Regions from separate parts of the Homo sapiens genome. Here region 2 is linked to region 1. Evidence: fine-mapped expression QTL. A gene starts in region 1. The other region holds a variant in brackets. All regions are shown on one strand. Distances are between the middles of the regions.

Region 1 (4,382 bases):
ACAGAAATATCCTCCCTGCTCTCCTCATATGCAAATCATTCTTCAAGGCACTGCTCAAGGTCTTTCTGCCCCCAAAGCCTGCCCATGTACAGGCCAATGGTTTGCTTTCCAAATCTCTTTACATTTATGTTCCCAATTTACCTAAGTTAGCCCTCAACAGGTTTCTGTATATATCTCCAAGTGTAGTGCAGGCTCCTTGAGGGCAGGCACACAAGTGTTCATTCATTCACTGGAGGCTTTTAGCAACACCTTATAAAGCGAGAAAGAAGGAGAAATATAAACTATGGTTGCTTCCAGTCCTCAGGGAGGGGAGACATACCTGGCACACAGTGGGCCCTCAACAAAGGTTTGCTATATTGAACTAACATATATGCCTCTCGTTGCAATTACTTGCTAAGTCCCATGAGAGGTATCAAATGGTGTTATAGGGAAAGCATCATCAAAGAGGTGGCATTTGAACCCTATAGGCTTTAAGGGCAGGGCATGGTTTTGTCTTTGTTTACAGAACTGGGAGGAGGTTACAGACAGAAGAAACAGCATTCCTACTACACACAGTGCCAGGTGCACACAGTGCCAGGCACACATCACTCACCAGAAACTGGGGAAAGCAGTGGAATTGAGTGAGTTCTGTCCCTGCCCCGGCACCAATTAGACTGAGTGAGTGGGCAAGTTGCTTAACTTCCCTGGGCCCCCGTTTCCTTCCCATTCTGAAGTGATTAAGCTGCACAGACTTCAGAAAGAAGCAGACTGAGTGAGGTTCGAATGATGACTATATGTGACCTTGAGCCAATCCGAAGCCGGCTCGCTCAGTCTCAATTTCCTTCCTATAAAATGGGTAAAATAATTTCTACCTCACAGGGCTTTTGTGAGATTTCGAGAACATATGTGAGTCGCTAACCACACAGCCTGGCAATACCAGATTTCCTTTTACAAAAGTAGGGGTGACAACGCTGATCTGCCTCTTTCTGTGTGGCTGCTGCTGCCTCCGCAGCACCCATCCCAGAGGCTGTCAGGAGTAGGGGCCGTGGACAAACTTCATGACCCCGAAAGAGAAAACAGAGCTGAAGGGGCTTCGGGGGGAAAAAGTAAAGAGCTGGCCACAGCAGGCTAACTTGGCTAACGGGGACACTTGGTGAATGCGTCCCCTTGAACAGACTTACCACAGTCGAGAATCTTTGCTAACTCGCATCAACCATGCCTCCCAAGCTGGCTGGATTTTGGACAGCCTTTTTTGTCTCCGCCTTCAAACCCAAGGCAAAGGACAAGGCCCAACCCCATGGCGGGCTGGGAGAGTGAAAGCAGGGGGAGTCCCCCAATTCCCAGCGGAAAGGAAGGGCGATCTGTTCCCACCCGCTGACTCCCACTCCCGGGGCCAGGGCTCCTTGGGCGCCCCCCTTCATTTCTCTCCTCTCCGCACAGGTCGGGAAGGGAGGGGGTCGCGCTTGGCCCGCGGCGCAGGTTCACCCCGGCTTTCGTCCCTCCGACCCCGCCTGGCCGCCCATCCCCGACCCCCGTGGACCCTGCTCGGCCGCCCCGGCTGGGGTCGATCTGGCCCTCCGCCCCCAGCCTGCGTGGAACCCGCCGGGCCGCCAGCCCCACCTCGGCCGCGTCCCCTCCCCTCCGCTCCGCTCTTCTCCCCTCCCCTCGCGGCCACCTCGGTGCCCACCCCGGCCTCCGCAGACCCCGCCGGGACCCCGCCCCGCGCCCAGCCACCCCCGCGCCGGCTTCCCGGCCCCCGTAGACCCCGCCCGGCCCTCCCTCTCCGGGGTCGTGGCGGCGGGGAGGAGGGGCCGCCGGGCCGGCGTGCGTGGCAAGCTCTCCCGGCTCGGCTCGCTCGGCCTCCCTTACCGGGAGGCGGGGTCGGCGCCGCGGCGGCGGAGGCAGGCCCCCTCCTCCCGCCTCCTCGGCCCGGCCTCCTTCCCCGGCCGCGCGTCCTCTCGCCGCTCCGACGCCAGCAGCGCCCGCGTGCCGCTCGCCCAGTCCCGGGGGAGCCCCTGCAAGTTTCCCGGGCCGCGCGCCGCGCTCGCTCGCCTCCCAGCCCGCGGCCCGAGCCGCCGCCGCGCCCGCCATGCCCTCGGCCAAACAAAGGGGCTCCAAGGGCGGCCACGGCGCCGCGAGCCCCTCGGAGAAGGGTGCCCACCCGTCGGGCGGCGCGGATGACGTGGCGAAGAAGCCGCCGCCGGCGCCGCAGCAGCCGCCGCCGCCGCCCGCGCCGCACCCGCAGCAGCACCCGCAGCAGCACCCGCAGAACCAGGCGCACGGCAAGGGCGGCCACCGCGGCGGCGGCGGCGGCGGCGGCAAGTCCTCCTCCTCCTCCTCCGCCTCCGCCGCCGCTGCCGCCGCCGCCGCCTCGTCCTCGGCGTCCTGCTCGCGCAGGCTCGGCAGGGCGCTCAACTTTCTCTTCTACCTCGCCCTGGTGGCGGCGGCCGCTTTCTCGGGCTGGTGCGTCCACCACGTCCTGGAGGAGGTCCAGCAGGTCCGGCGCAGCCACCAGGACTTCTCCCGGCAGAGGGAGGAGCTGGGCCAGGGCTTGCAGGGCGTCGAGCAGAAGGTGGGTACCCCCGGCCCCGCAACTGTCCCCATCGACTGCGGCCTCCGGACCCACGGCCGGGCTCCTTCGTGCTTCCCGACCGGCCCCTAGCGCTGCCTGCCCAGGCCCGGAGGCGGGAGCCGGCCGCTCCTCCTTGGCGGGCCCTGGCCTAGACATCCCACTCCACGCGGCCCCCTAGTTCCGAGGCAGTCCCCAGACCCCCTTTGTTAATGGCTGCGGAGGAATCGGCCCCGAGGGATGGGCCGCCGCGAGGATGCCCAGGCCCGCCTGGCAGGGTGGGCCAAGGGCCTGTCACAGGGCATTAGCGGTGACCTGTAAGGAAGCCGGCAGGCTCCGGGGAGCCCATTCTTTCTGCATTAGGAACCGCTGAATGGGCAGAGCTGTCTGAAAAGGAGGTTGGAAGGGAAGCCAGCGCATCCCTGGAAGCCTCAGGCAAGGCCCCACCTCAGCTCTGCCTGTGGGAGACATCCGAGCGGGGTTTTTAATAGACCCGGAGCTGGCATTCTTACTCATTTGCAGGTCCAAATGAAATACCATCTATCTTTAGGTCCCTTGTCCTGTATTGGACCAGCCTGCCCAGGTGGGCCTTTGACGTAGTCCTACTTCAGCTTTTTTGGGTTTTCTTTTGAGAGGGAGTCTGGCTCTGTCGCCCAGGCTGGAGTGCAGTGGTACGATCTCAGCTCACTGCAACCTCTGCCTCCCAGGTTCCAGCGATTCTCCTGCCTCAGCCTCCTGAGTAGCTGGGATTACAGACATGTGCCACCATACCCAGCTAATTTTTTATTAGTAGTAGAGACAAAGTTTCACCGTATTGGCCAGGCTGGTCTCGAACTTCTGACCTCAAGTGATCCGCCTGCCTCGGCCTCCCAAAGTGCTGGGATTACAGGCGTGAGCCACTGCGCCCGGCCCTACTTCCGCTTTAGGGGAAGAGGAGGGCCAAAAATACTAGATCATACTGGTGAATAATACTTCTAGCCACATTTATATGGTGTTTAGAATGCTTACTCACTCACATATTATCTAATTCTTATAACTACCCTGGGAGGGAGGACTAACAGTTTTGATTTCATTTCCCAGAGCAGAACATTGAGGTTTAGACAGAGGAATGAGTTGACAAAGTCCCCAGCTGGTGAGTGACAGACACACGAGAATGTCTAGGCCACTGCCCTGTTCGTCAAGGGTCCACAGGGGTCCATTTCAGGTATGGATGGACCCAACTCTCAAGGCGAAGGTGCTTAGCTTCCACCCTTCTGTGGTTTTTCCATACCAAGTACAGCCCCTTTGATCTTATTCGCCCTCCACTATGTCATTGCTCAATGAAAGTTGGTTGCAAGACTGAAACAAAAAATCCCGCCACTTCTGATCCCGGAGCCACTGCCTCCTTTTCCCAGCATGCTGTCTGTCCTGCCAAGTTGCTCTCTGCTTTTGTTGAGTGTGCAGGACCAGGAATTTCCTCTTAAGACTGGCAGAGCACGGCCGGGCGTGGTGGCTCACGCCTGTAATCCCGGCACTGTAGGAGGCCGAGGCGGGCGGATCACCTGAGGTCAGAAGTTTGAGAGCAGCCTGGCCAACATGGTGAAACCCTGTGTCTACTAAAAATACAAAAATTAGCGGGGTGTGGTGGCACATGCCTGTAGTCCCAGCTACTCAGGAGGTTGAGGCAGGAGAATTGCTTGAACCCGGGAGGTGGAGGTTGCAGTGAGCGGAAATCCTGCCAGTGCACCCCAGCCGGGGCAACAGAGTGAGACTCCGTCTCAAAAAAAAAAAAAAAAAAAAAAAAGACTGGCAGAGCAACTGGAATGAGTCAGCCTGCTAAACGCTGCAGGCCAAG
Region 2 (4,382 bases), 26 kb before region 1:
GAGCTTTTATCTCCAATTGCTTCTCTGAGCCCCTTCTTTCTTTCCTCGTTTCCAAGTGAAGGAAGAGGAAGAGGAGGAATATGATTGACCAGAGGCCCAGGCGCTTGTTGGGTTACCTTTACCGTGGGCGGGGTCACTGGGCAGAAAGAAGTCTGGAGACGGATACAGTGTCTCCTTTCTCTGCCAATCTGTTGAGTGCATTCCCAGATGAAAACTGACCCAGAACATGGACCCTTAAAGGAAGCCTGGGCCTTTCCTTGGCTCTCTTTTCTCCCATGCAGCAAGCGGGTCTGACTCCTGCCCGGGTAGATCCTTGCTAAGCTCAGAGGCAAATGCATTTTCTGCTGAGGTCTCTTTCTCTGTGGCTTCGTCGCATACAGCTCTGATAGATGTGCACCGTGTCATCTTTCTCTGCAAAATGGCCCACCCAAGATTCAGGTTGGGGAGAAGTTGAACCTTTACGTGTCTAGCCTTGGCTGTGCAGAACAGTTTCACACACCAGAATTCTGCTTTGGGGTTTGGGGCCTAAAGCCCAGCTAACAATAAGACTCTTTCTGGGTGTCACCTCCCTTCGGGACTGCCTGGGGGAAGTTTCTTCATTTGTGGAAGCTAGTGATAATGAAAGTCTCAGGTGGGATTTAGGTGTTCTCAGGATCTCTGGCTGCATTGTCCAAAATACTCTGGATTGTCGGTGACAGAACTGCAGCCCAGTTACCTCAAGGAAAGTTGGTAAATGTTTAACAACTGGCTTGCCAGGAAAAAAAAAAAAGAAAAAAAAAAAGGCCTGATTTGTAGTGCTTAGTGTTTGCAGAGTTCCATGGGCTGGAAACTCCCATCGGTAGACTGAGAGTAAATACTTCCGCCAGGGCTGATTTCAAGCTCCCAACCATTTAACAACCAGTTTACAAAATTCCTGAACATTTAACAATAGGCTGTTGCAAGCCAGAGAATCCCACTCTAGCACACTAAATGAAAAATGTAAAAAAGAGCAAAATGATTCACTCACTTCTGCAACATGTGGGAAGAGCAGGGACACAGAACGTGACCTCAGGAAGGAAGAGAACCAGGGAAACGAAGGCCAATAGGGTTCTCTCTGCAAACCAACCTAGTTTTTCCCAACTACAGATCCACTCTCTCTGTGTTTCAAGAGACGTCATGCCAGCAGCTGCCAGAGTTACAGCCTCACCAATTCCCAACCAGAGAAGAAGGAGGGCTTCGGTGCTGGTTTGAAAAATCCCAGTGCCAGGTTGGCCAGTCTTTAATTGTGTACTCTCCCCTGGGGTCAGAGGGTAGGTGCACTGCCTGAGGATCATGGGGTCTGTCAGGAGGTGGGGAGGGAGGGTTGCTGGCCAGGAAAAAAAAACCACTAATCCCATTACAGTGACCATCTCAATGCCATCAGAACCTCGTTCCCATTTCTGCTAGTCTCCAGAGTGGCCGAATCAAGGATAGCATGAAGAAGCTGTTTCACCCGTGTTTTGGCATTATATTTTATAGTTTTCTTTTCTTTTTTTTTTTGGGATAGTCTCACTCTGTCACCCAGGCTGGAGTGCCGCGGTGAGATCATAGCTCACTATAGCCTTGAACTCCTGGGCTCAAACCGTTCTCCCACCCAGGCCTCCCAAAGTGCTGGGATTACAGGAGTTTTCTTTATTGTGTTTGATCTCAGCTAATTTCACAGGCAAAAATAATAATCTATTGATATTTTAAGTACTTCTCTCTTTCCTTTTCTTTTCTTTCCTTTTCCTTTCCTT[C/TCCTTC]CTTCCTTCCTTCCTTCCTTCCTTCCTTCCTTTCTTTTTTTGATGGAGTCTCACTCTGTTGCCCAGGGTAGCGTGCAGTAGCGTGATCTCTGCTCACTGCAATGTCTGCATCCCAGGTTCAAGTGATTCTCCTGCCTTAGACTCCTGAGTAGTTGGTACTACAGGCGCGCGCCAACATGCCTGGCTAATTTTTGTATTTTTTTGCATAGAGATGGGATTTCACCATGTTGGCTAGGCTGGTCTTGAATTCCTGGCCTCAAGTGATGCGCCCACCTCAGCCTCCCAAAGTGCTGGGATTACAGGCATGAGGGAGCCATCATGTCCGGCCTATTTCCACTTCTTACGTCACAAGTGAGGTTAGCAATATGTTCCTAAATGTGAAGTAATTGTATTTCCTCTTTTGTGAATGTTTGGATCTTTTGTTCATTTACCTTATGGATAAGTTATTTTTAAATCTCTTTATTCAACAAATATTTACTCATTTGTTGTTATAGGCCAAGCATTTATAGATGCAGAAAATATAATAGTAAACAAGGCAGACAGCATTCCCATCTTTAGAGTACTTACCCTCTATTGGTATGGCCTGTTTAGAAAACAATACACTAAGTCTTGCTTGTCATACTCACAATGAATATTTTTCCTATAAGCTGTTTTTATTCTTCCATACAGTTGTTTTACATTTTTATGTGGTTGAATCTGGCCTACTTTCCCCTTTTACACAAGCTTTTTCTTCCATGCTTAGAAATTTCATTTCCTCAGCAAAATTTTAAGATATGATTCATTTTCATTATTTCTGATTTTCCTAGTCATGAAACTTTGTATGCAATTATTTAATTTATTTATAATTTATCATAGTGTGTGGGGTGAGCTGAGCGTCTACACTGGTTATTTTTTCCAAACATTGAACACTTACTGAACTGTACCTTTTTTCATTGATTTGAATAGATGACAATAGGCAGAACATTGATCAGTGGAGAGGTGAGATGAAGGTTGTTGAAGGGCAATTGGAGTTGCTCAGTTTAGGTAATTTGGTAAGGGAAATGGCAAGGAAATTTGTACATACAAGGCATTAATGCAGGCAGAGTTTGTCTGGAATAAAAGGTCCATATATTGTAGTGATTCTTAACCAAGGATGGACAAACCTGTTGACTAGGGAGCTCTAAAGACATACTCACGCCTGGGCTGTACCATTAGGAGGTTTAATGTACAGCTGGAACTCATTTATTTATCTTTTTGAAGCAGGGTCTCACTCTGACACTCAGGCTGGAGTACAGTGGCATGATTACTGTTCACTGCAGCTTCAACTTCCCAGGCTCAGGTGATTCTCCTACCTCAGCCTCCCTAGTAGCTGTGACTACAGGTGTGTGACCCACCACGCCCAGCTAATTTTTTTGTATTGCTTGTAGAGATAGGGTTTTGCCATGTTGTTCAGGCTGGTCTCGAATTCCTGGGCTCAAGTGATCCTCCTGCCTCAGACTCCCAAAGTGCTGGGATTACAGGTGTGAGCCACCACTGCTGGCCAACTCATCCGTTATTTATTTTATTATTATTATTTTTATTTTATTTATTTATTTTTAGACAGAGTCTCGCTCTGTCGCCCAGGCTGGAGCACAACTAATGTGGGAAATTGTGGCAGATAAAGCTGGTCTGGTAAGTAGGGAGCAGATTGAGAGAGATGGCAATGCCAAGCTGAATCTAGTTGTGGGTTCAGGAAGCCTCTGAGGGCACAGCTGAAAGAGCATGGACTTTGGACTCAAGCAGATAGAGGTTTTGATACTATTTTTACTGATTTCAGGCTATGTTTTCCAGTTTGCAGGTCCTCTCTCAGAGTCTTGCTTTTTTTTTCTTTCTTTTTTTCACCTCGAACAAAATTAATAATATCTACTTAATAGGCTGTGATGAGTCAATGGGAAGTCAAGTATAAAATACCTGGCTCAGCACCTTATGCGTAAATGAATTCTGCCTTCTTCCTCTTGAATGAGCCTTTGGCCTATGCCAGGCCTGCCTCATGGTTGCCTTTGGGATGAACTAATGTAAGACATTTCCGGAGAAAACATGCAAATACATGTCAAGATGATAAATGGAAAGAGATCCAAGTTGTCCTTTAATCCCAGAGGTTTCCAAAACCTTCAAAGAGGTTGTACTTTTTAGGAGAGGAACTCTTCTTCCTTAGAGAAATGGAGAGAAGCTTTGAATTTCCCAAAGGCCTTGCCTTCATAGCTTGACAAAGGCAAAACTTGGCTCCACTACAAGCCACCTCAGCTCAGTTGCAGAGATAATCCTTGCCCCTGGGCAGCTTAGCCTGGGAACCAAGGTCAGCTGTTATGAAAATAACACAGCCATAGTCATTTTTATAAAAGAAAATTCCTCATTCAAATCTGTTTACAGAGCAAAGAATCTCCTTTCTTGAAGATGGAAAATACCATTCCTTCTCAGAAGATCCACCCTCCTTAACTTTGTATCATTGATATTCATTCAGTGATTTGACAAATATTTATTGATATCACTTCTGTTTGACAACTACTTTGGAACTGGCCTCTCTCTACAGTAATAATTTTAAACCAATTTTCCACGCCTCCTTGTATTATAAATTGACACCAAATATTTATTTTGGGATTGGGTACTAAT

Which allele goes with the higher level. Alleles are on the strand shown, and positions count from the first base shown. SD is a standard deviation of normalised expression in the study named.
In carriers of allele TCCTTC in region 2, the expression in lymphoblastoid cells of the gene that starts at base 1,900 in region 1 tends to be lower than with C alone (moderate effect, 0.47 SD a copy in TwinsUK).

Evidence for each region. PIP is the estimated chance that this variant, and not a neighbour inherited with it, causes the effect.
Region 2: its variant is the best candidate, but not a certain one, in a credible set for the expression of CKAP4 in lymphoblastoid cells (TwinsUK, PIP 0.82).

Annotation. Positions count from the first base shown.
Region 1 is chr12:106,245,538-106,249,919 of GRCh38, reverse strand. CKAP4 (cytoskeleton associated protein 4) reads left to right here and starts at 1,900. Exons shown (of 2, transcript NM_006825.4): 1 at 1,900-2,551. The coding sequence starts at 2,069. LOC124903008 (a long non-coding RNA gene) reads right to left here and starts at 1,648. Exons shown (of 2, transcript XR_007063443.1): 1 at 1,161-1,648; 2 at 1-249. RefSeq lists silencers at 1,325-1,664, 1,695-2,004, 2,665-2,754.
Region 2 is chr12:106,271,414-106,275,795 of GRCh38, reverse strand. No RefSeq gene overlaps it. Among named protein-coding and RNA genes, the nearest start is that of CKAP4, 26 kb to the right of the region's middle. The variant C/TCCTTC (reference allele first, on the strand shown) is at 1,755.